Homo sapiens: one gene and its partners. The protein of the gene in region 3 interacts with the protein of the main gene of each other region in a pairwise test. Each region holds a gene or a part of one and is shown on either strand. Other genes may lie near its edges.

Evidence for each region.
Region 1: the proteins of PTK7 (region 3) and DUSP15 interact in a two-hybrid assay, tested with the Homo sapiens proteins (one study listed by BioGRID and IntAct).
Region 2: the proteins of PTK7 (region 3) and PTPRR interact in a two-hybrid assay, tested with the Homo sapiens proteins (one study listed by BioGRID and IntAct).

Annotation. Positions count from the first base shown.
Region 1 is NC_000020.11:31,867,528-31,875,405, forward strand, and holds the start of DUSP15 (dual specificity protein phosphatase 15), read right to left. Parts: upstream 3,001-7,878; 5' UTR 2,811-3,000; coding exon 2,790-2,810; intron 2,705-2,789; exon of another isoform or gene 2,283-2,704; intron 2,263-2,282; exon of another isoform or gene 2,179-2,262; intron 2,071-2,178; coding exon 2,037-2,070; intron 1,874-2,036; exon of another isoform or gene 1,626-1,873; intron 1-1,625. Other genes in the region: probable tubulin polyglutamylase TTLL9, read left to right, coding at 3,600-3,668. UniProt on the Homo sapiens protein: May dephosphorylate MAPK13, ATF2, ERBB3, PDGFRB and SNX6.
Region 2 is NC_000012.12:70,910,739-70,917,738, forward strand, and holds part of PTPRR (receptor-type tyrosine-protein phosphatase R isoform 1 precursor), read right to left. Parts: intron 1-7,000. UniProt on the Homo sapiens protein: Sequesters mitogen-activated protein kinases (MAPKs) such as MAPK1, MAPK3 and MAPK14 in the cytoplasm in an inactive form.
Region 3 is NC_000006.12:43,135,265-43,142,355, reverse strand, and holds part of PTK7 (inactive tyrosine-protein kinase 7 isoform a precursor), read right to left. Parts: intron 3,508-7,091; coding exon 3,374-3,507; intron 3,221-3,373; coding exon 3,085-3,220; intron 2,951-3,084; coding exon 2,831-2,950; intron 689-2,830; coding exon 539-688; intron 426-538; coding exon 275-425; intron 185-274; coding exon 57-184; intron 1-56. UniProt on the Homo sapiens protein: Inactive tyrosine kinase involved in Wnt signaling pathway. Component of both the non-canonical (also known as the Wnt/planar cell polarity signaling) and the canonical Wnt signaling pathway.

The DNA of each region.
Region 1 (7,878 bases), on a different chromosome or scaffold from region 3:
TCATTAAAAAGGGACTGGATGATTAATGGTGTAGGCATACTTTGGCACAGTGTGCCGCCATTAAAAAGAGTTCTATATGCTGATGTGCAATGATGCCCACAATGTTTTTTTTTTTTTTTTTTTTTTTTTTTTTTTGAGACGGAGTCTTGCTCTCTCTCCCAGGCTGGAGTCCAGTGGCGCGATCTCGGCTGACCACAAGCTCTGCCTCCCGGGTTCACGCCATTCTCCTGCCTCAGCCTCCGGAGTAGCTGGGACTACAGGCTCCCGCCACCACACCCGGCTAATTTTTTTGCATTTTTAGTAGAGACGGGGTTTCACCGTGTTAGCCAGGATGGTCTCGATCTCCTGACCTCGTGATCCGCCCGCCTTGGCCTCCCAAAGTGCTGGGATTACAGGCGTGAGCCATCGTGCCCGGCTGATGCCCACAATGTATTTTTAAGGATACAGAATAAGCTTCCACTTTTGTTTTAAATACTATGTCCTTATCTACAAAGATATATGAACAAGGATGTACCCAACAGTGGCCCTCTCTAGGGGCTGCATACCCAGCATATGCAGATCTTTTATATTCAGAATGAATAACACATGTCCCCTCTATCTCCACTTCCTCATTCGATGAGCATTTACCGAGTGCTAACCATGTGTATACTTTGGCTGGGCACTGGAGGTCTGGGGCCAGCTTCGTGGCTCCTGCCCTTATGGGGCCTGCACACTTACAGAGGGTTCAGACCTTACTTGGCCAAATACTCACAGAAATCAAGGTGGCATGAGCGGCTGAGGGAGCTCCCAGGAAGGAAGGGACCAGGATTTACAAGGGTGAAGCACCTGAGCCCCTCCCTCTCTAAAGCTTTTTCTGACTCTGCAGATGGAAATGATTTTCCCACTTTGAGTCACCCAAGCCCTGGATCAGTCTGCCCCTTAGCATGTTTTCTTTTCTTTTTTCTTTCTCTTTTTTTTTTTTTTTTTTTTTGAGACAGAGTCTCGCTCTGTTGCCCAGACTGGAGTGCAGTGGCACGATCTCGGCTGACTGCAACCCCCGCCTCCCGGGTTCAAGTGATTCTCCTGCCTCAGCCTCCCAAGTAGCTGGGATTACAGGCGCCTGCCATCGTGCCTGGCTGATTTTTGTATTTTTAGTAGAGACGGGGTTTCACTATGTTGGCCAGGCTGGTCTCGAACTCCTGACCTCAGGTGGTCTGCCCGCCTCCGCCTCCCAAAGTGCTGGGATTAAAGGCGTGAGCCACTGCGCCCAGCCCCCTTAGCATGGTTTCTACCCAGCATGTTTTCTACCCAAGGTCTATGTTCAGCTCTGCCTGCCTGCCACCAGCCTGGAAGCCCCTGAAGAACAAGGTATCTATACATGGGTGTCCCCTCCTCCTGACTGAAGATTGTGGAAGGAATGGATGAGAGAGTGGGGAATGCAAAGCTTGCCGGCTCACCGCCCCCCCAACTTCCAGCTCTAGGCTGCCCAGCTGCTCCAGGGCTCTGGGGTGCGACAGTGTTGGTGCTCATGACCCTGCTCACAAGAAGGCCCAGCCCATCTCCAGGGACCTCTCCTCTGACAAGGAGGAAGTTATGGGGGGAAGAGTTCCCAGCTTCCCCGCTAGAAGCAGCACCCGCAAACAGACCTCAACCCAGAACCTCAGGGCCAGAAGAGTGCTCAGCAGCTGGTGGACCTTTTGTGCTGAGGAGGAGGCTGAGGCTTAGCGCAGGTGTAGACTTGCTCAGGTCCACAGCCCAGGCCCCGAGCCCTTTGCTCTGGCCCTTTGGTCTGGTGGTAGAACACTGGGGAAGGCTGAATGGCGGGGAGGGATGTCAGTGTCAGGCCCCCATGCTCCCTCCATGTCCCTTCAAGCCTGGGGACACTCGCCTGCATGTGCACCCCTTGTCCTCCATCAGCCTTTTCCCCCTCCCAGCCTGGGGCCGCTTCCCTGCCCCCAACCCCATTCCTGAGATGCATGGGCCAGGGCATGAATGGTGGACACAGGCCTGAGACAGGCAGAGTGCCATGGCCTCGGGACAGAGTGGGCAGTGCTCACCAATGAAGTTTCCGAGGTAGAGTCCAGGAAGTACCTAGAGGAAGGACAGGCAAGGGTCAGTGGGGCAGGGGCTGCACCCCCTTCCACCCCCAGGGCAGCTGGGGGGCCCACAGCCCCTCTCTGTCCCATGAAGGGTATGGACCTCAGGGCTCAGGGAGCACTCTCTTCCCTTTTGTGGGCCCTGAGTCCTCTGTGAGAGGGGTCTGGGGCTCTGGGGAGGGTAGGCTAGGGGGCCAGTTAACCAACCGAGGGAACCAAGGGAGGCCAGCTTGGGTATGAGAGGGGAGAGGAGGAAGGCAGGTCTTAGGAGGAGAGGAGAGGAGAGAGGTAGACTTGCAGGGTGCAGGGATGGAAATTCTGGGGCTGGGGAGGCAGAAAGGCAATGACAGGCAGAGGCGGGACAGGATGGAGAAACAGCCCCGGAGAGAGCCGAGGAGTCAGCGACAAGGGAGAGGGACACATGCAGACGGAGAGCAGGACTCACTGGGAGACAGCCTGGGAGTGACAGCCACAGCAAGACAGCGAGAGACACACAGAGTCACGGAGAGAGGGCGGACACAGCGGGGACAGAGACGCAGGGTCAGAGAGGGGGAGACCCGACAGCCGCGGTCTCGAGTCACAGGGACACGGAGATGCCGCCGCACGGAGACCGGCGAGAACAGAAGGTCAGAGGCGGGCGGACCGAGCTGGTCAGCGCCGGGCCGCGGCGGCCGGGGCGGGGACCGGGGAGGCTGCGCGGGGCCCGCCCCCTACCTTGGTCATGCCATTGCCCATGATCCCGGGGGCGGCGGTCCGGGTGCACCCCCAGCTCGCCGCCCGGGAAGCGATCCGGTCACAGCTGCCCTGACGGCCCAGGCCCGACGCCTGCAGCCTGGCGGGGAACGGGGGGCCTGGCGTCCGCGGCCCTGCCCAGCCCTGCCCAGCCACCGCCACCGCCCGCCGACCCCCGGCCCGGGAGGGAAATGGTGGTGGAGCCGCCGCTGCCACCGCCGCCGCCGCAGGCTCCTCCTACCCCTTCGGTCATGTGGGGCCCCCGCCTCGGGTCGCGGCGGGGGGCCGGACAAAGCCCCAGTGTGCCGGGCCCACGGCCCGCGGGACAACGGCAGTTTGTTGGGGCCGCGTGGGGCCGCCACCTCCGGAGGTGGGGGCGGGGGCCTTACCCCACCCTGGCACCGGCAGGCGCGGGCGGATGGGGGGATGTCGCCTAGAGCCCCCCGGCCGGCCCACAAACTCCCGTCCCCCTTCCGGCTCTGCCTGGACGTCCCTGCGGGCCCCGGGGGAAAGCACCCAACTTCTCCCGCCTCGGCTTCTAGCAGAAACGTGACGGGGCTGGACTTTGATCGCCGAGGGCTCTCTGCTCTTCAGAGTCTGCTTGGAACGGGATAAGTGGGTAATTCCTTCCGATACATCCTCTCCACCCGTGCAGAGACACCCTACCAACCAGCCTTCCTCCTTTCCCATCCATTCTCCCACCCTCCTGTTCACTCATTCACTCGTCCATCTTCCCATCCATTCATCCATCCTCTCACTCCTTCCTTCCATCCATTTCGGCCCCTAGGAGGGATGGTGCCATCCAGGGAAGCTCTGCTGGGACCAGGCACAACTGCCATTAGGTGCCCCAAGAAATTACAGGTGAATGTTGGGAGAGGGGTTTGAGGGAGGGTTCCAGTCTGAAGGAGACTACATCAGGATGTATTAATAGCTAGAGGTCAGGGTCCTGGAAGGGGTCTGGAGACCAAGGTTTGAGGCCCTGTTCACCTCTGACCTGCTAGATGACCCTGGGAAAGTCCCCGTGACCCCCAGCTAACCCTATCTGTGTTTCTGAGGATGTTGAGGTGAGCCCTTCCTGGCTTCTAGGACCAAAGCTGGAGAATGTAAAATAATCAAGACACTTCCTATAGGACTGAAATAGAAGCAGCTGCACCAGCTTTGTTCCTTCAGCCATCACCCCCACCCCTCAATCTATAGTAGTAGGTGACTGGGGATTGTGGATAGAGAGCAGGACAGAGAGAATCCACAGAGCCCTTTGAAATACAGTGATTGGAGAAAAATAAAACTGTTTCTTCCTCCCTCAAGTTCATAGCATACATGGGGCTGCCCGTCTCAGCTCTCATAAAAGCCCAGAGTTCTCATAAATACCAAATTATTCAGTAAATACTTACTGAGCATCTAGTATATGATAGAGACTAGGGACACAGCAGTGGGTAGAGATTGTTCCTACCTTCATTAGCTAATGGTATAGACCAGCATTGTCCAAATGAAATATAATGCCAGCCACATGTGCAGCCACATTTAAAAAGTAGAAACAAGTTAATTGTTGATAATATTTTTATTTAACTCAATATATCCAAAATATCATTTCAACATATAGTCAGTATTTTAAAACTATAAATGAGATATTTTATATCCTTTTTAAATTGTATTAACTATTCAAAATCTGGTGTCTTTTACATTTACAGCACATCTCAATTCAGACAAGTCACATTCCAAATGCTTACTAGCCATATGCAGCTAGTAGCTACATATTAGACATCTCAGATCTAGGAGGGAAGGCAAACAAGATAGGCAAACAAATAAATTATTTACAAATGGTCCCAGTTTTCTATGAAGGAAACAAAGCAGACAGGGAGAACCTCTCTGAATAAGTGGCATTTGAGCTGAGAGGTGATATATAAGAAGGACCCAGCTGTTTAAAGAGTGGAAAGCCAGGCGCAGTGGCTCATGCCTGTAATCCCAACACATGGGGATGCTGAGGTGGGAGGATCAATTGAGCCCAGGAGTTTGAGACCAGCTTAAGCAATATACTAAAACCCCATCTCTAAAATAAATTTGGCTGGGTATGATGGCTCAGGTCTGTAATCCCAGAACTTTGGGAGGCCAAGGCAGGAGGACTGTGTGAGCCCAGGAGTTTGAGACCAGCCTGGGAAACATAGGGAGACCCTGCTTTTACAAAAAAAAAAAAAAAATTAGCCGGGACCTGTAGTCCAAGCTACTCAGGAAGCTGAAGTGGGAGGACCACTTGAGCCCAGGCGGAGGAGGATCACTTGAGCCCAGGCGGTGGAGGCTGCAGTGAGCCATGAGCGCACCACTGCACTCAAGCCTGGGTGACAGAGCGAGACCTTGTCTCAAAAAAATAAAAAATAACACACACGAAAAAGAAAAAGAGTGGAGAGAGTATTTCCAGCAGAAGGAACAGCATGGGCAAAAGCCCTATGATGGGAATAGCTTGGCCTCTGTAAAAAGCCAGTGGGACTGGAGTAGAGGGAGCTACAGGAGGTGTTAAGAGGACGGTTCAGGGCCGGAGCATGCAGGAGCACATATGGCCATGATTGGGAGTTAAAGTTTTCCTTCTCTTCTGTCGGATAAAAATCCAACAGGAAAATTTAACCTGGGAGGCCAGGTCATCTGATTTATTTAAGTCAAATACTTCGACCCCTCACTGACCCTTTCCTTTATGGGGGCCACTGCAGCAGCTCAGGTAAGAGGTGACAGTGACCTGGGATAGAGTGGGACCCGAGAAGCTGGAAAGAAGGGGATGGACTCAGCATATATGAATATTTTCACAGGGCAGCTGAAAGGACTTGCAGATTGACTGGATGTGGGGGGAAGGAAGGAATTTTAGGATGGCCCCCAGGCTTCCTGCCTTGAAAGTCACTATCTGTGTCACAGAAATGAAAGCAGGGGTGTTCACCAATTCAACACGTTTATTGGGCACTGAGCTATATGTAGGAAATTGTGCCAAAGATGTGCTGACTTAAGTTTCCCCAAATGCCCGACCCATGGATGCTGTAAAGAAATGCTGATGCTGGGCGTGGTGGCTCATGCCTGTAATCCCAGCACTTTGGGAGGCTGAAGCGGGAACATCGCTTGAGCCCAGGAGTTGGAGACCAGCCTGGGCAACATGGCGAAATTTCGTCTCTACAAACAAACAAACTAAAACAAAAAATTAGCCGGGTGTGGTGGCACGAACCTGTAGTCCCAGCTACTTGGAGGCCAAGGTGGGAGGATTGCTTGAGGTTGAGGCTGCAGTGACCTGTGATCACATCACTGTACTTCAGCTTGGATGACAGAGTGAGACCCTGTCAAAAAAAAAGACAAAAGAAAGAAAGAAAGAGAGAGAGAGAAAGAAAGAAAGAAAGAAAGAAAGAAAGAAAGAAAGAAAGAAAGAAAGAAAAAGGAAGGAAGGAAGAAAGAAAGAAAGAAAGAGAAAGAAAGAAAGAAAAAGAAAGAAAGGAAGGAAGGAAGGAAGGAAGGAAGGAAGAAAGAAAGAAAGAAAGAAAGAAAGAAAGAAAGAAAGAAAGAAAGAAAGAAAGAAAGAAAGAGAAAGAAAACACTGATAAACGAGCCTGAAGACTAGCTCCTTACCATGGCCCTGGCCTTAGCAGCTCTGCGATCCTAGGCGGGTGAGCCAATGTCCCTTAATTTACCCATAGAGGGGCAATTGTAACAGTCCTTTGTGTTCCCACTGAGTGCTAAGGGGAAAGATACAAATTACATGTAGGAAAGAATTCTTTCAAGTTAAAAGCCCATATGTGTTATTAGACCTAACATATTTAATATCTATGTACTGTTCAGCCTTTGGAAGTATTAGTTATTACAAAGCCCAATCTGTCTTAAATCATGAAATGACCATTTTACAAAACCAATAATAGGAAGATGCTAAAATGTGGGTCTCACCCTGTCATTCCCTTGCTTAAAGCCCTTTAGTGGATTACTGTGGTAGACAAAATAATGGTCCCCCCAAAGGTGTTTACACTCTATTTCCTTGTAACTGTGAATGTTATATTACATGGCAAAGGGTAGAATTAAGGCTGCAGATGGAATTAAAGTTGCTAATTAGCTGATCTTTTTTTTTTTTTTTTTTTTGAGACAAAGTCTCACTCTGTCGCCCAGGCTGGAGTGCAATGGTGCAATCTCGGCTCAGTGCAACCTCTGCTTCCCAGGTTCAAGCTATTCTCCTGCCTCAGCCTCAAGAGCAGCTGGGACTACAGGTGCCCACCCATGCCTGGCTAATTTTTGTATTTTTAGTAGAGAAGGGGTTTCACCGTGTTGGCCAGGCTGGTCCTGAACTCCTGACCTCAAGTGATCCACCCACCTTGGCCCCCCAAAATGCTGGGATTACAGGCGTGAGCCACCGCGCCCAGCCAGCTGATCTTGAGATGGGGAGATTATGATGGATTATTCAGAGGGGCCCAACATAATCACAAGTGTCATTATTAGTGAAAGAGGGAGGCAGGAGAGTAGGAATCAGAGGGGATGAGATGACGGAAGCAGAAGTCGGAGTGGTGTAATTGCTGGGTTTGCAGATCGAAGGGGGCCCACAGCCAAGGGATGCAAGTGGAAAAGGCAAGGAAACAGATTATCCTAGAGTTTACGAAAGAAACTCAACCCTGCCGTCACCTTCATTTTAGCCCAGTGAGACCCATTTCACATCTCTGACCTCAAGAACTCTAAGATACTACATTTGTGTTGTTTTAAGTCACTTTGTTTGTTGTGATTACAAGCAGCAACAGGAAATTCATACACTCACCAACACCTTTAGGAAAATGTCCAACCTGCTTAGCATGGCACACAAGGAGGCCTTGTGGGATGTGGTTTCTGCCACTGACTTTGAGCAAGTTTTTAAATTTCTCTGGGCCTCAGTTTCATCATCTATGAAATAGGGAGGAAAAAAAACCCTCTGTAGGTCTGTAGTAAGAATAAATGAGAGGACATGTTTCAAATACCTAGTAGAAAGACTGGAACACAGTACATTATTATTATTATTACCATTGGCATTACTATTATCATGGAACAGTTGACAGAGTAGGAACCCTTGTCTCTACTCCCTTCATTAGGGCTA
Region 2 (7,000 bases), on a different chromosome or scaffold from region 3:
ACAGAGGTTCCCAGCAATGCCAAGAGACATGCCCAAATGCCCAAGGGGACCAGGCTTGTGAGGACTCATGTGAATTGCCCTAGTGAGCTTCTTAAATGTCATGAAATTTTCAGAGGCACTGAAAGAGCTGCCAGATGTGTCTCTGGATTTGCATAGAGAAGTGAAGCATCATGAAAAAGTTTCTATAACTGAATTCTGAGTTTTCTTGTGAACTATGGGTCTCCAAGGGAGTCAAACTGAAGCTATAAATAATAGGTCACCTGAGGTAAAATCAGCAGCGAGAAGAGTCCTGGAAAAGCAGGGTCAGCTGAGTAGCCTGGGTTTTAGGGGAGTGGTGAGTAGTTCAATGAATAGGTTGTGGCTGCATGTGACCTTTTCCATTATGTTCTTCCCATACCCATGCCCCTCCTTCTATCCCTTTACATTCAAACACCCCTGTCTTGGCTGGTGTCTGCAGAACCACAGGCAGCCTTCCACATGGACCTACAGCCCAATGGTCTAGAAATTCCATGGGCTACAAATGGTAAATAGGATAGTATCAGTTGGTCAGTAGAGAAGAAGGATGGCCAGAGGAGTAGACAACAGATGGGAAGCCTATAGACCTATGAGCAGCATCCCTCGTCCATGCTTGAGCTTTTCACCCTTTGTGGGTCCCTAGAGGGATTAATTAGGAAGATGTATCCTAGGACAAGTCTAGACTGCCTGCTAAGCAAGGCAGTGCAGTAGGAACTAGGCACTTCAGATTTATGATGTTTATGTAAATGTTACACATTTTCAGTCACAATCAGGCATATCCAAGAGAAATTTTTATTTCACATTCATTTAAGTAGAACTTGCTGAAGACATGATGCTAGAATTCATGTTTAGATGAAACTTTTAGAAAAGGCATTGGGAGAGATATCTGCAGGGAGGTAGATATTTTCGAGCTTCATAGTCCACTACAAACCTGCACATATGGTCAGGCTCCTGCCTATAGCATACAGATGAAAACTATCAAGAAAAGGCTCAACTGAAAAAAAAAAAAAAAAACCACTCAGAATCCAGAATGTATCTAGGTGTGTATGCTTACCCAGTATTGGCATAAACATAAAAAGAATAAGAAATTCCTCCAAGGTACAATTAACCATTTATCATCTCCTTAGTCTAATCACGTAATGCCTAACACTTCTATGACACTCTCTAAGACTGCAAGTTTGGATATATTATCCCACTTAACTCTCAACTACTATGGAATTCTGCTAAAAAGTTATCTAGAAACATGACATTTCCCCTTGTTTAAATTTTCTCCTTTCTTCTGTTTAAGCTACTTTATTTTCTTCAGGGAGAATTTTAAAAATACCACCTTGAATCAAGAAGACAAAGAAACTAAATTGCTTATGATTGAAAGCCATACATTTACATTAATGGATTGATGGTCTTTCAACCTAACTAACTCACTATGATATTATGTTTGATCATTTTTCCCAGATAAGTGAAAGTCACCCAGTGGTGAACTGATTCTGTGCATTTATTGCTTCCTTTTCTCTCCAGTATGCCTCAGGAATTGGATCATTAGTACAGTGAAATAGCTGTAGAGTCTTGCTCTGTACATATTGCTGTACAGTCCAGTGAATCACTGTGAGATGCTTTTACTCTGTGCTCATTAAATGCTCCTTTCCAAAGAATCAGTAGTTTAGGACTGCCTGAGGCCAGTCTTCTCATTTAAGTCAGAAAATGGACATTGCTTTAGATCTGAAAAAAAGGAAATAAAAAATAAAATAGAAATAGGAAAAAATAATTCATGTCCCCAATGAACTTGGCATTTGCTAAGTTCTAGACTGCTGCATAATATAAATAATAGTTTTGCTTTGTTGTTGGTCCATGTGGCTGCAATTTTAATGGACATCAACATCTTAATATATTAAAATCAAATGAGATTTGATTATGAGGAAAGTTTATGCAGTCATTATGAATAAAAATGATTTAAGTGGAAAGTGCTAATGTTTATAATATAAATTTGCTAATTGTCCTTTTGTGGCAAATATCATTACTATAGTAGGCACTTATAGTTACATTATATGGTACATAAGCATTAGGAAATTTGATCTTAAAATAATATTTTAGCATTACATCTTTATTTTTCGAAACTACTAACATCCTTTATGTTGGGAAACATCAATGCTACTCTAAGTGTGTCAGCATTTGTAAATGCCTTGAAGATGAAAAATGCACTCATGGGCCAAGTAGAATCTTTCAAATCCCCTTTTAAAGGAAAAAATGGCTTTCACTAGCTTTTGAATTTGACTCACAGAACAACTTTTAAGATTTAACAATAAACTTGCCATAAAATATAACATCCGTGTTATCTCTAATACTAATGGCAATGAATGGGCTTTTGATTTGTGATCTGATCATCTCACATAAAGCGATTTTTAAATAATTCACAAAATAGTCTCCATTCTTCAGGTGTAAGAATGTCTTCTATGAGAAAAAATATGTGGGATCCAAAAACTTTATGGTTCTATAAAGACTGTATACACACAAAATGAGAGAAAAAATGTATACAACCACTCAAATATTCAGACATTTTGTGTGATGATTTGGTTTTTAATTCAGAGAGAAAAGGAGGGTTGAATAATTTTTGGTCTTGATTTATTGAAGCCACTGTCTCACACTCCCACCTGATTTTGAATGTGTAAATGTCTTGTATTTGCTATAGGTAGATAATAACCAATCAGTAATCAGGGTTAGGAGTTCCGGGTCCATTCTGTAGTGGACAACTATCATGCTATGTTGTTTATCTAACTCTTTGAGCTCTTTAAAGTAAAAAAAAAATCTCATTCTATTCTTAAGTAGTACTGGAAAATCATGCAAGAATGTCTATCCATCTAGAAAGAGTTCAGCACACAAGTACACTACAAATAGCATCATGCCCATGGGACACAAACTTATCTTATGGAGTGTATTTACATAGAAAATTTTCTGTCCCATCTCCATTTCCTTGTTGTCAATAAGTGTAAATTGCACTAAGGTGGCAGTAGTAAAGTCAATTACCTTCTTTATGGTCATGAAGATGAGATATAATCTCTTGGTCAATGTAAATTAATTTATCACAATTCATTTTAACAAATATATTTAATATATGTATTCATTCATTGAACACTTACTGATGCCATATTAGGTAACAAGCATAGTTCTAGGGAATAAGTATATAGAAATAAAGCTGCAATTGTGTTATTGTTCTCAAAAAACTTCAGTATACAGGTTAAGTACATTGACAGGGGAATATACAGGATTGAAAAGGGAAATGTAGGAGAGCTACTTGAATGAGGTGAGTCATCCAAAAAAAAGAAGATTCTCAAAGTGGGCTATGCCTGATCAACATTTGAAGTTGGAGAAAGAGTCATCTAAAAAAAGGAGCAGAGTATTGGTATTTAAGAGAAATAGAACAGTATGTGAAATGATTCAAGACATGGCAAACCAAAGGAAATTTTGTCTTAGTGTGATATTAGTGTGCAAAGGAGGGCAAGATGAGAAGACCTCATCGCAAAAGACTGCCTTCCTAATGAGTTTGGAGTTTATTCTAAAAGAAAAGGAGATAGCTGTATTAAAGAATTTTTTGGAGAAAGAATATGATCAGGTATGCTTTTAAGAGTTTCACCTCCGACATTATTATAAAGAATAAATTTGATAGGAGGTCATCACAAGATATTATGTGAGAAATAAGGATCTGTCTCAAGGCAGTGACATGATCATGGAGAGTGGAGAACATCTTATGAGAAGAGTTTGAAACCTTTAAGATGAAAGTAGCAAAGGGATGATCTAGGATCAATTATTTGTTTCAGACCTGGGTCATTGTGAAGAATCCTGGTGTTATTCACAATGTTAGGGAATATTTATCAGAGTAATTGTGTTGAGAAGTGTTGAGTAAAAATAGTTGTATATAAGATTATTGTGGGGCCAGGTACTGTGGCTCACACCTGTAATCCCAGCACTCTCTGAGGTTGAGGCAGGAGGACTGCTTGAGCCCAGGAGGTCGAGGCTGCAGGGAGCCATGATTGCACCACTGCACTCAAGCTTGGGCAACAGAGTGAGGCCCTGTCTCTAACAACAACAACAGCAACAACAACAACAACAAAAACAAAAAGATTACTATGGAATATACAATGACTTCTAGGTAATTTTAAATATAGAACCAGAGTTCAGGGGAGATAACTGAGATGGAAATGTGGATTTTGGAATCTTTGACGTGCAAGTCTGAGTATAATTATCCAGGGAGATTGTATACAGAGAAAAATAACAAAAAATCAATGACAAGCTGTAGAGAGCACTAACCATTAAATAATACACAGCAGAAGACCTAAAAGTACAAATTGAGAAATGGCTGGAGAAATAAGAGGGAAGCTAGGAAGTAATGACTGTCTGTGGAAGTCAAGTGAGGAAAAATTTTAAAATTCAGAAAGGGGTCAAAATATATAAGTACTATAGAAATGCATTGATAACAAGAACATACATTACAATAACCTCTTTAATTATGTTCAACCATAGGATGATAGGATGAGGACGGAAGCTGATAGAGAAGTAGGTGAGAAATAAAGAAGAAAAGGCTGAATGTGCATAATGCATCCCAGAATTTTTACAAGGTGTTAGGTAGGATGTGATTTTCAATGGAATATGTGAGGTGCTATTCTATTGGAGGTGCTAGAAATATGTCATCTCCAATATACATATTCCTGTGTCTCTTAAGTACCAAAGAAGCAAATCAGTTTTTTCTAGTGTATTAGACTCTCTGTTTGTAAATCAGCTGATCCCTGTAGCCATTCCTACATGTACAAGGCATTTCACTGAGAAGTGAAAATGTAGCCAATCAGCAAAGAATTTGGGCTGCACAATATCTGGCAATCAGTTTGAAAGACTTTTTTCACTGAGTTGATTAGTAGTTCTGGTCTAACACAAACCCATCCTTTATTGCCCTTCAGTTCACAATGACAGCAAAATCTGTTAGAGATAGTGTGTTTTGGGGGCATGTGAGGCAACATGAGTTTTGGACAAATGAGCTGTTTAAGTCCATTCCAGAAGTGGCTAAGTGGACTATGTGTGTTTTTTGTGGGTGTTAAGAAGATATTAAATGCAAAAAGAAGAGACCAGAAATATCACTGTATTACATTATTTATTTAACTTATTTATTTAATCTTTAGAAAGATTTTATGTCAGGAACTGCCCCCAGGTACTAGGTAGCCCAAGACCTCTAATACATGCAATAATAAACAAAACAGGCAAAAATATGTGCCCTAAATGGGCTTACATTTTAATACAGAGAGGGGAAACTACAATAAAAAAAGTAAAATATATTGTATGTTGGGTGGTGAAGACCTCTGGGGAAAGAAAAGTTAGGCAGGGAAAGGGTGCTAGAATTTTTATCTGGGTGATGGGGGGAAGGGAAAATGAAATATGAAATAGAATAACCTCATTAACAAGGTAATATTTAATTAAAGTTCTAAAATTATTGTGGGATTAAGCTGTGGAGACACCTGGAGAAAGAAAAAAGCAAAACAGTATGAAAGGGTGAGTGCCTGGCATCTTCTAGAAACAGAAGGATAAATATGGCTGGAGAGAGGTAAAAAAAGAAGAAAGTAGTGAGAGATAATATCATAGAAATAATGTGGAGAGAGACTCTAGACCATTGTAAGGTCTATATTGAGTGATTTTCAATAGGAAAAACAAATTCTGGAGTTCTAAGGAACATCTTAAAATCTTAAAATATATCATTTACCTGTTAGTCTATCGTTTCTTTTGAGGGTGGTACTTCTGCAAATCATCTCCCAGATCTTCTTGGCACCATCATAGAATACCTTTCTTCTCAGAGACTAGAGAAATTGACTATGCACTTCTCTGAGAGATTTTCAATAGGAAAAACAAATTCTGGAGTTCTAAGGAACATCTTAAAATCTTAAAATATATCATTTACCTGTTAGTCTATCCTTTCTTTTGAGGGTGGTACTTCTGCAAATCACCTCCCAGATCTTCTTGGTACTATCATAGAATACCTTTCTTCTTAGAGTCTAAGGAAATTGACTATGCACTTCTCTGAGAGTGAAGAGATAGTTTCAGGAGATACATTGAAGGCAGTCTTTGTGCCATTCAAAAAGGCTGATAGCAAGAACAACACAGAAATTTGAAAGAACCTTTTCCAGAACTCAAAGAGAAAGCAATGGATTGAAATCAGTTTCTGTATTTTGTTAGCAAAACATTCCCTAGGAAAAAGAAAGCTTTCACATGAGAATTTTTAATATATCTCAAAAATGTACTCTTTTGCAACTAAAATACAACACTATAAATAATATCTCCTCAAATGGAATATGCTTCTTTGGACAAAGGAAGAGGAGAAATGCTGAAGAAAATAAGCTCTGTGGATCTTCCACATAATATTTTTTTACCATTCGTATTATTGTGGTGGCTTTTAATTGCCTCCTTGAATATTCCTGAAGTGGTATTTTCAACTGGAGTTTATATATTAAACTGGTTCACGAAAGAGTAAAGAATAAGGACAGTTAGGTAAAAAGTATTTTGCACCACTAACTTAATCAATGGTGGCCTCACCTATTGTAGAACCAGTGTATAATTTTATATAGTATGCAACCACGGGTCTGGAAACCTGGGCTTTTATCCCGACTATGCTATTAACTACCACTTTAATACTCTAGATCTTCATTTTCTCACCTGTAAAATAAGCAGTTGGATGGACAATAACCACAACTTCCTTGTTAGGTGATCTATAAAAATCGGCTGCCATGGGTAGAGTAGTGTCCAGCTTCTCTAACAAGAACCATGCTTAGTAATCCTTTAGTGTTAATTTACCCAGAGATGCCACTTACACAGCATGGTACCCACTCCTCATTTTTCTCCCACAGCTATTATAGACCACAGTACTTCTCCCTAGCCAGAATGCGAGTCATAATCTTCTTTTTCCCCCCGATGGTGTCTTAGGCAACCATAAGCAAAATAATGGGAGATGGCACTC
Region 3 (7,091 bases):
TGACAAACGTCTGGGCCCACCACTTCCTGTGCAGCATAACCCTCCCCAGCCCATACCCACGACATAGAGGGGGGCCTCCGTGTGCTTGATGTTGCAGCTGTTGCCTGCAATGCAGGTGTAGCGGCCTGAGTCCTCAGGGGCCACGTCATGGATCACCAGGGAGCCATTCTGGAAGATGTGCATCCTGTCGGGGGAGAAGCCATAGTGCTGGCCAGCTCGCAGGGAGGGGGGCTGCAGGAGAGGAGGGACGGGTGTGGGAGAGAGGTGGCCCTACCTGGGTCCCAGCTTGGTGGGGTCCAGGATGCGGTCCTTGCCTTTCCACTGAATCAGCGGCTTGGGGTCCCCCTGGGCCTCGCACTGCAGTAGGGCTGTGTGGCCCTGGTACACAGTCGTACGCTCTGGTTCCACTTTGAAGGTGATAAAAACTGGAAGAAAAGAGACCAGCGAGGCGCAGGGAGGGGTAAGCCAAGGGGCTGGCAGGGTACACGGTGCTACCCCAGAGGGCCCTCCCAGCCCCAGGGCCCTGCCACGGTCGCACCTGCCACAGTGAGCTGGACATGGGCACGAATCTGGCCCTGCGGCCCGTTGGAGGCAATGCAAGTGTAGTTGCCAGCGTCATCTCGAGTCACCCGGGCAAAATGCAGGGTCCCAGCGTTGTCTGTCACCCACTCTGGGAGGCTGCTCCCATCTGCAGGGGTAACAAAGGGAAATTATGGGAAGGATCAGGGTTACACAGACAGCTGGCAATGCCTTCAGTCCCTCACCTCTACTCAAAAACACACCATCGCTCCTGACCACCCACAGGCAAAGTCCAAACTCCTGAGCCAAGTGTTAGAAGCCCCTCCGTTATTTACCCCTCTTCCAATTCTTCAGTCTCACCTCTTCCTCCTACTGCCCTGTGTGACATTCCACGTCTGCCAAACCGGACTCTGTTTGGGCCCAGATCGGCCCTGTTCCTACTCCGCTGCCCATCACTTCTCCCTCCTAGAGCCCATTCCCGCTCTTTACCATCCCAGGCTGTAGATCCATTTTAAGCCTCACCTCTCCCAGAAAGTTCCCCCAGACCTGAGCAGAGGGAGCCTACTTCCTCCTCAGAATCTACAACTGTACTCTCTCACTCTAGGTGGAAATGTCAAAATTGGTCCAACCTTTTAAAAAATAATTTGGCAACTCACATCAAGGGCTATAAAAATGTTCATACCCCCTTTCGTGCATAATTATCCCAATTCTGGGAATCTTTCCCAAAGGAAATAAACCTAAATCCAGAAAAAAACTTTGGCTTAAAGATGTTTATTGCAGCAATGAAAAAAAAGGGGGTGGGTGGGTGGCTGGTTAACAACCCAAATCTCCAACATTTAAGGAACAGTTAAGTAAATTACAGTGAATCCAATTGTTGAAATATTATTAGGATCATCAAAACAAATATTCATGAAGAGTGTATAAAGATGTGGGGAAATGCTTGACAATGGTAAGTAAAAAAGGGTATAAAATTACACCGTTACAAAAAAAATAAAAATAAATAATTTTAAAAAATATTTTTAAAAACTACATAGTTATCTGTATTGTCTAATTCTACAATAAGCATGTCTACAGGCATGCACCACCATGCCTGGCTAATTTTTAAATTTTTTGTACAGACAGGGTCTCCCTGTATTGCCCAGGTTGGTCTTGAACTCCTGGGCTCAAGCGATCCTCCCACCTCGGCCTCCCAAAGTGCTGGGATTACAGGCATGAGCTACCACACTCAGCCAATCATGTAAATTTAATAACTGAAACTATATATACAATAAAACTGCTAGGTAAAAAAAGAAAAACATATGCACAGAAAAAGAAGACATACACCCAAAGATGATAAACGGCAGGACTGTACATTTTTTCTCCCAATATTTTTTTTTTTTTTTTTGAGATGGAGTCTCGCTCTGCCACCCAGGCTGAAGTGCAGTGGCACAATCTCGGCTCACTGCCACCTCCGCCTCCTGGGTTCAAACAATTCTCCTACCTCAGCCTCCCGAGTAGCTGGCACTACAGATGCGTGCCGCCACCCCTGGCTAATTTTTTGTATTTTCAGTAGAGACGAGGTTTCACTACTCTATGTTAGCCAGGATGGTCTCTATCTCATGACCTCGTGATCCACCCACCTCAGCTTCCCACAGTGCTGGGATTACAGGCGTGAGCCACCACGCCCGGCCTCTTCCAGTATTTTGTAAAGGAGCCCATGTAACTTTTGTTTCTTTTTTCTTTTGAGTCAGAGTCTCACTCTGTCAGCCAGACTCTGGTGCAATGGCATGATCTCGGCCCACTGCAGCCTCCACCTCCTGGGTTCAAGCGATTCTCCTGCTTCAGCCTCCTAAGCAGCTGGGATTGCAAGCATGTGCCACCACGCCTGGCTAACTTTTGCATTTTTAGTAGAGATGGGGTTTCACCATGTTGGCCAGGCTGGTCTCAAACTCCTGGCCTCAAGTGACCCACCCATCTCGGCTTCCCAAAGTGTTGGGATTACAGGCGTGAGCCACTATGCACGGCCTCCATGTAATTTTTATGTTGGAAAAGATAAACTATTTTGGAAAAGGGGAAGAGAGGACTTTACAGCACTGTCTGAACCAATCCAATCACTTGTTGCCTTGAGTTGTCTTCCATGTTGTCCAAGGCTATAATCTGACCTCTTCTGTGTCTGGCTTTTTCCTTCCTAACTAAACTATACATCAGCCCTGCACTGCTTGTCTAATCTCCACATTTCCTGGCACAGTGCGGGGCACCCAGCAGCCCTCAGGTATGTATCTGATCAGTGAACTGCCTGCCTGCCCCTACCCTATGCCGGCACTGTACCCACCTGCCCGTTCCCACTTAATAGTGGGCTTCTCTCGGCCTGTGGCTGAACAGGGCACCGTGGCCTCCTTGTCAAACTCCATGCACTGCTGTGGCTGGGGTGGTGGTGTGAACTTGAGCTTTTCTGTTTCAGCAGAGGGTGGGTAGAAAGACGAGGAATTGGGGCCGCTGGAGAGGCCGTGGCCAGGCCTGCTGCTCCCTCCCCTTTCCTCTCCTGCCTAGCCAGGAAGGGTGCTCCCCCAAGACATGCTGGCTCACCCAGCACTTGGACACGGGCTTGCGCCTCGATGCTGCCGGCTGGGGTGCTGCTCATACAACGGTACCATGTCCCATCATACACCTCCACGCTGTTGATGCGCAAGGTCCCATTCTTGAAGACCTCGAACCGTGAGTCCTGCAGCACAGGTGAGAGGCCTCAGAGCCTGAACCCACACCCACCTCTCCCTGGAGGCTGCCTCCAGGGTAAGAGTGCTATGGAGGTGAGCACAGAAGAGGGCAAGTGGAGGGAAGGCCCCGCCCATCCACTAGCAACACTCTTCTTTCTCACCTCTGAGATGAGCATCTGGTTTCTGTACCAGACAACTGTAGGTTTTGGTGTGGCCTGGGTCAGGCAATCCAAGTAGCCGGGTTTGCCCTCCTCCAGCTGGCTGTCTTGGGGCTTCTTCAGCCAGGAGGGCACAGCTAGACAGACAGGAAGGAAACAGTGAAGGCTGCTTCACAGGTCTCCAAAACTAAAGGATCCATCTCCAAGAAATCCTACTACCATTCTAGGCCCTGAGTTCAGAAGCCCCATGCTCCTCAGATGGCAGGAGTTTCCCTTTACGGAAGACCCAGGTGCCAGCACCTTTTTTAAAATTTTTTTTCTTTTAAGACAGGTTCTCACTCTGTCACCCAGGCTGGAGTAGAGTGACACAATTATGGCTCACTACAGTCTCGAACTCATAGGCTCAAGTGATTTTTCCCACCTCAGCCTCCCAAATAGCTGGGACCACAGGCATGCACCACAATACTTGGCTAATTTTTTTATTTTCTGTAGTGATGGGGTCTTGCTATGTTGCCCAGGCTGGTCTCAAACTCCTGGCTTCAAGCCTCCCCAAGTGCTAAGATTACAGGCATGAGCCACCACGCCCGGCCACCAGCACCTTTTGAACATTATCTTAGTTAACTGTCACATTAATTAACTTAGTTAACATTATCTTAGTTATAAGCCCCTATGGTAGGCAGGGAGTGGTGGCTCACACCTGTAATCCCAGCACTTTGGGAGGCCGAGGCGGGAGGGCTGCTGTAAGACACTGCACTCTAGCCTAGGCAACAGAGTGAAACCCCCATCTCTAAAAAAACAAAAAAAACAAACCCCCCAAGGTATGTATTCCAACACGCACTTTACAGCTAAGAAAACAGATGTTCAAAGAAGTAATGGTGGCCAGGCACAGTGGCTCACGCCTGTAATCCCAGCACTTTAAGAGGCAAAGGCGGGCAGATCATTTGAGGTCAGGAGTTCAAAACCAGTCTGGCCAACATAGTGAAACCCCGTCTCTACTAAAAATACAAAAACATTGGCCGGGTGTGGTGGCGGGCACCTGTAATCCCAGCTACTGGGGAGGCTGAGGCACAAGAATCGCTTGAACCTGGGAGGTGGAGGTTGCAGTGAGCCGAGATCACGCCACTGCACTCCAGCCTGGGCGAAAGAGTGAGACTCCATCTCAAATAAAAGATAAAAAATAATAATAACAATAATAAAAAAAGAAGAAGTAATGGTGATTTGCTAATACCTAATAGTGACAGAATTTAAAACTCTGGTCTATATGACTCTGAAACCCTTGTTCTTCTTATTACACCATAAAATGCCAAGGCGCAGTCCTCAGAAATCTGTTCTGTTTTAGCAACACTCACTCATCCAGTCCACAACCTTCAATACAACATGAATGGTTGGTTCCCAAAACTACATCCTGATTCCTATAAATCCAATTGCCTACTGGCATTTCCAACTGGATATCCAACAGGCATCTCAAACTTTACGTGTGCTAAAGAGAACACCTGACTTCCCCCAAAACCTGCTCACTCATTTTCCCTATCTCAGTCAATAGAACTATCTAGTCAGTTAAGAAAGCCAAAAAGCTAGCCTTGTCTTCTCTCTATACCCCACCCCCATCACACTCGTTCTACCAAACCCTATCTACTGGGGCTCCTAAATATATCCTGAATTTGACCACCTCTCACCCCCACCGCTACTGCCTCTGTTCAAGCTCCTTCAGTATCTCCCCTAGACTATTATAGTCATCTACTTAGTATGGGTCTCCTTGTTTATACTCTTGGCCCTAACATTCTAGTCTCAAAACAGCCAGAGCGATCTTCTGAAAAATCAGTCTTCCACTCAAAACCCTGCAAGACCTTCCCATCCAATGTGGTGTGGTAGGCTGCTTGCAATGATAGTTATAAACAATCCTCCCATCCCTTTCAACTCTTTTCAATGTGATGTTGACACTTTCCCATCAAGAGGTAGAGTTTATTTCTTTTTGTGTGTGTGAGACAGGGTCTCATCCTGTTACCTAGGCTGGAGTGCAGTCACGCCACTATGGCTTACTGCAGCCTCAGCGTCCCAGGCTCAAGCAACCCTCTCACCTCAGCCTCCAAAGTGGCTAGGACCACAGGCGCGTACCACCAGGCCCAGCTAATTTTTTTTTTATTTTTAGTAGAGACGGGGTCTGGCCATGTGGTCCAGGCTGGTCTCAAACTCCTAGGCTCAAGCAGTCCTCCCACCTTGGCCTCCTAAAATACTGGGATTGCAGCGTGAGCCACTGAACTGGGTCATGGTGTATTTTTCTAGTCCCTGGAATCTGAGTGGCCTGTGACTTCCCTTGTCCAACAGAACACAGTGGTAGTACTGCAGCTTCCACTTTTGCCCTCTCGGAACCCAGCTGCCAGGTGAGGAAGCCTGGCTAGCCTACTGGAGATGCCATGTGGAGGAGAACTAAGGCACCCTGGTCAATAGCCCCAGTCAACTGCCAGACAGGTGAGTGTGGCCGCCAGGGACCAGGCCAGCTCACCCATCAGCTGACTGCAAACGTGTACACCCAGCCGATAGCACACCAGGTAGACGAGCGGGCCCACCTGAACCTGTCCACAGAATCATAAGCATGTCAACGGCTGTTGTTTGTTGTTTCAAGTCACTACGGTTTGGTTTTTTTTTTTTTTGAGTTGGAGTCTTGCTCTGTCACCCAGGCTGGAGTGCAGTGGCGCGATCTCTGTTCACTGCAACCTCCACCTCCCAGGTTCAAGCGATTCTCCTGCCTCAGCCTCCCAAGTAGCTGGGATTACAGGCATGTGCCACCATGCCTGGATAATTTTTTTTTTTGTATTTTTTATTTTATTTTGAGATAGAGTCTCGCTCTGTCGCCCAGGCTGGAGTGCAGTGGCGCAATCTCGGCTCACTGCAACCTCCGCCTCCTGAGTAGCTGGGATTACAGGCACATGCCACCACACCTGGCTAATTTTTGTATTTTTAGTAGAGACGGGGTTTCAGCACGTTGGTCAGGCTGGTCTCGAATTCCTGACCTCGTGATCCACCTGCCTCGGCCTCCCAAAGTGCTGGGATTACAAGGCGTGAGCCACTGCACCCAGCCATTTTTGTATTTTTAGTAGAGATGGGGTTTCACCATGTTGGCCAGGCTGGTCTCAAACTCCTGACCTCAAGTGATCCACCTGCCTCGGCCTCCCAAAGTGCCACCACGTTTTGAAGTGGTTTGCTATGTAGCAATGGATAACTGATGCCGAAGCCAAAGTCCTTACTATGCTTTTACAAGGCCTATGGGATTTAGTTTCCACCTCTCAGGCAACTTCAACCCCTCTCACCATCGTTTATTCAACTCAAGCCACACAGGCGACTACTGTTCCTCCAACATACAAGCCCATTTCCATCTCAGGGCCTATCACATGGCTGGCTCCCTTCTTAATTTAAATACCAACTCCAATGCACCTTTTACAGAAGTCTTCCCTAAACTCTCACTGGCCCTGCCCTTTCTCTATCACTTGCCCTATTTCATTGTTCTCCCTTGTTCTACTGGCACCTAAAATTATATTTGTTCATTTGATAGTTTTTCTTACTGGCTTTGTCCCCGCTGTTAGAATATGAACTCCACAAGGAGAGGGGCTTCTGCCTGCTTTGTTCACAGTTGCATCCAGTACTGGGAAGAGCTAGCACAAGGTGCTCGACAAATCTCTGTTGACTGAATGCATTCCCAGAGCTCTCCGTCTTCTGGGCTCTA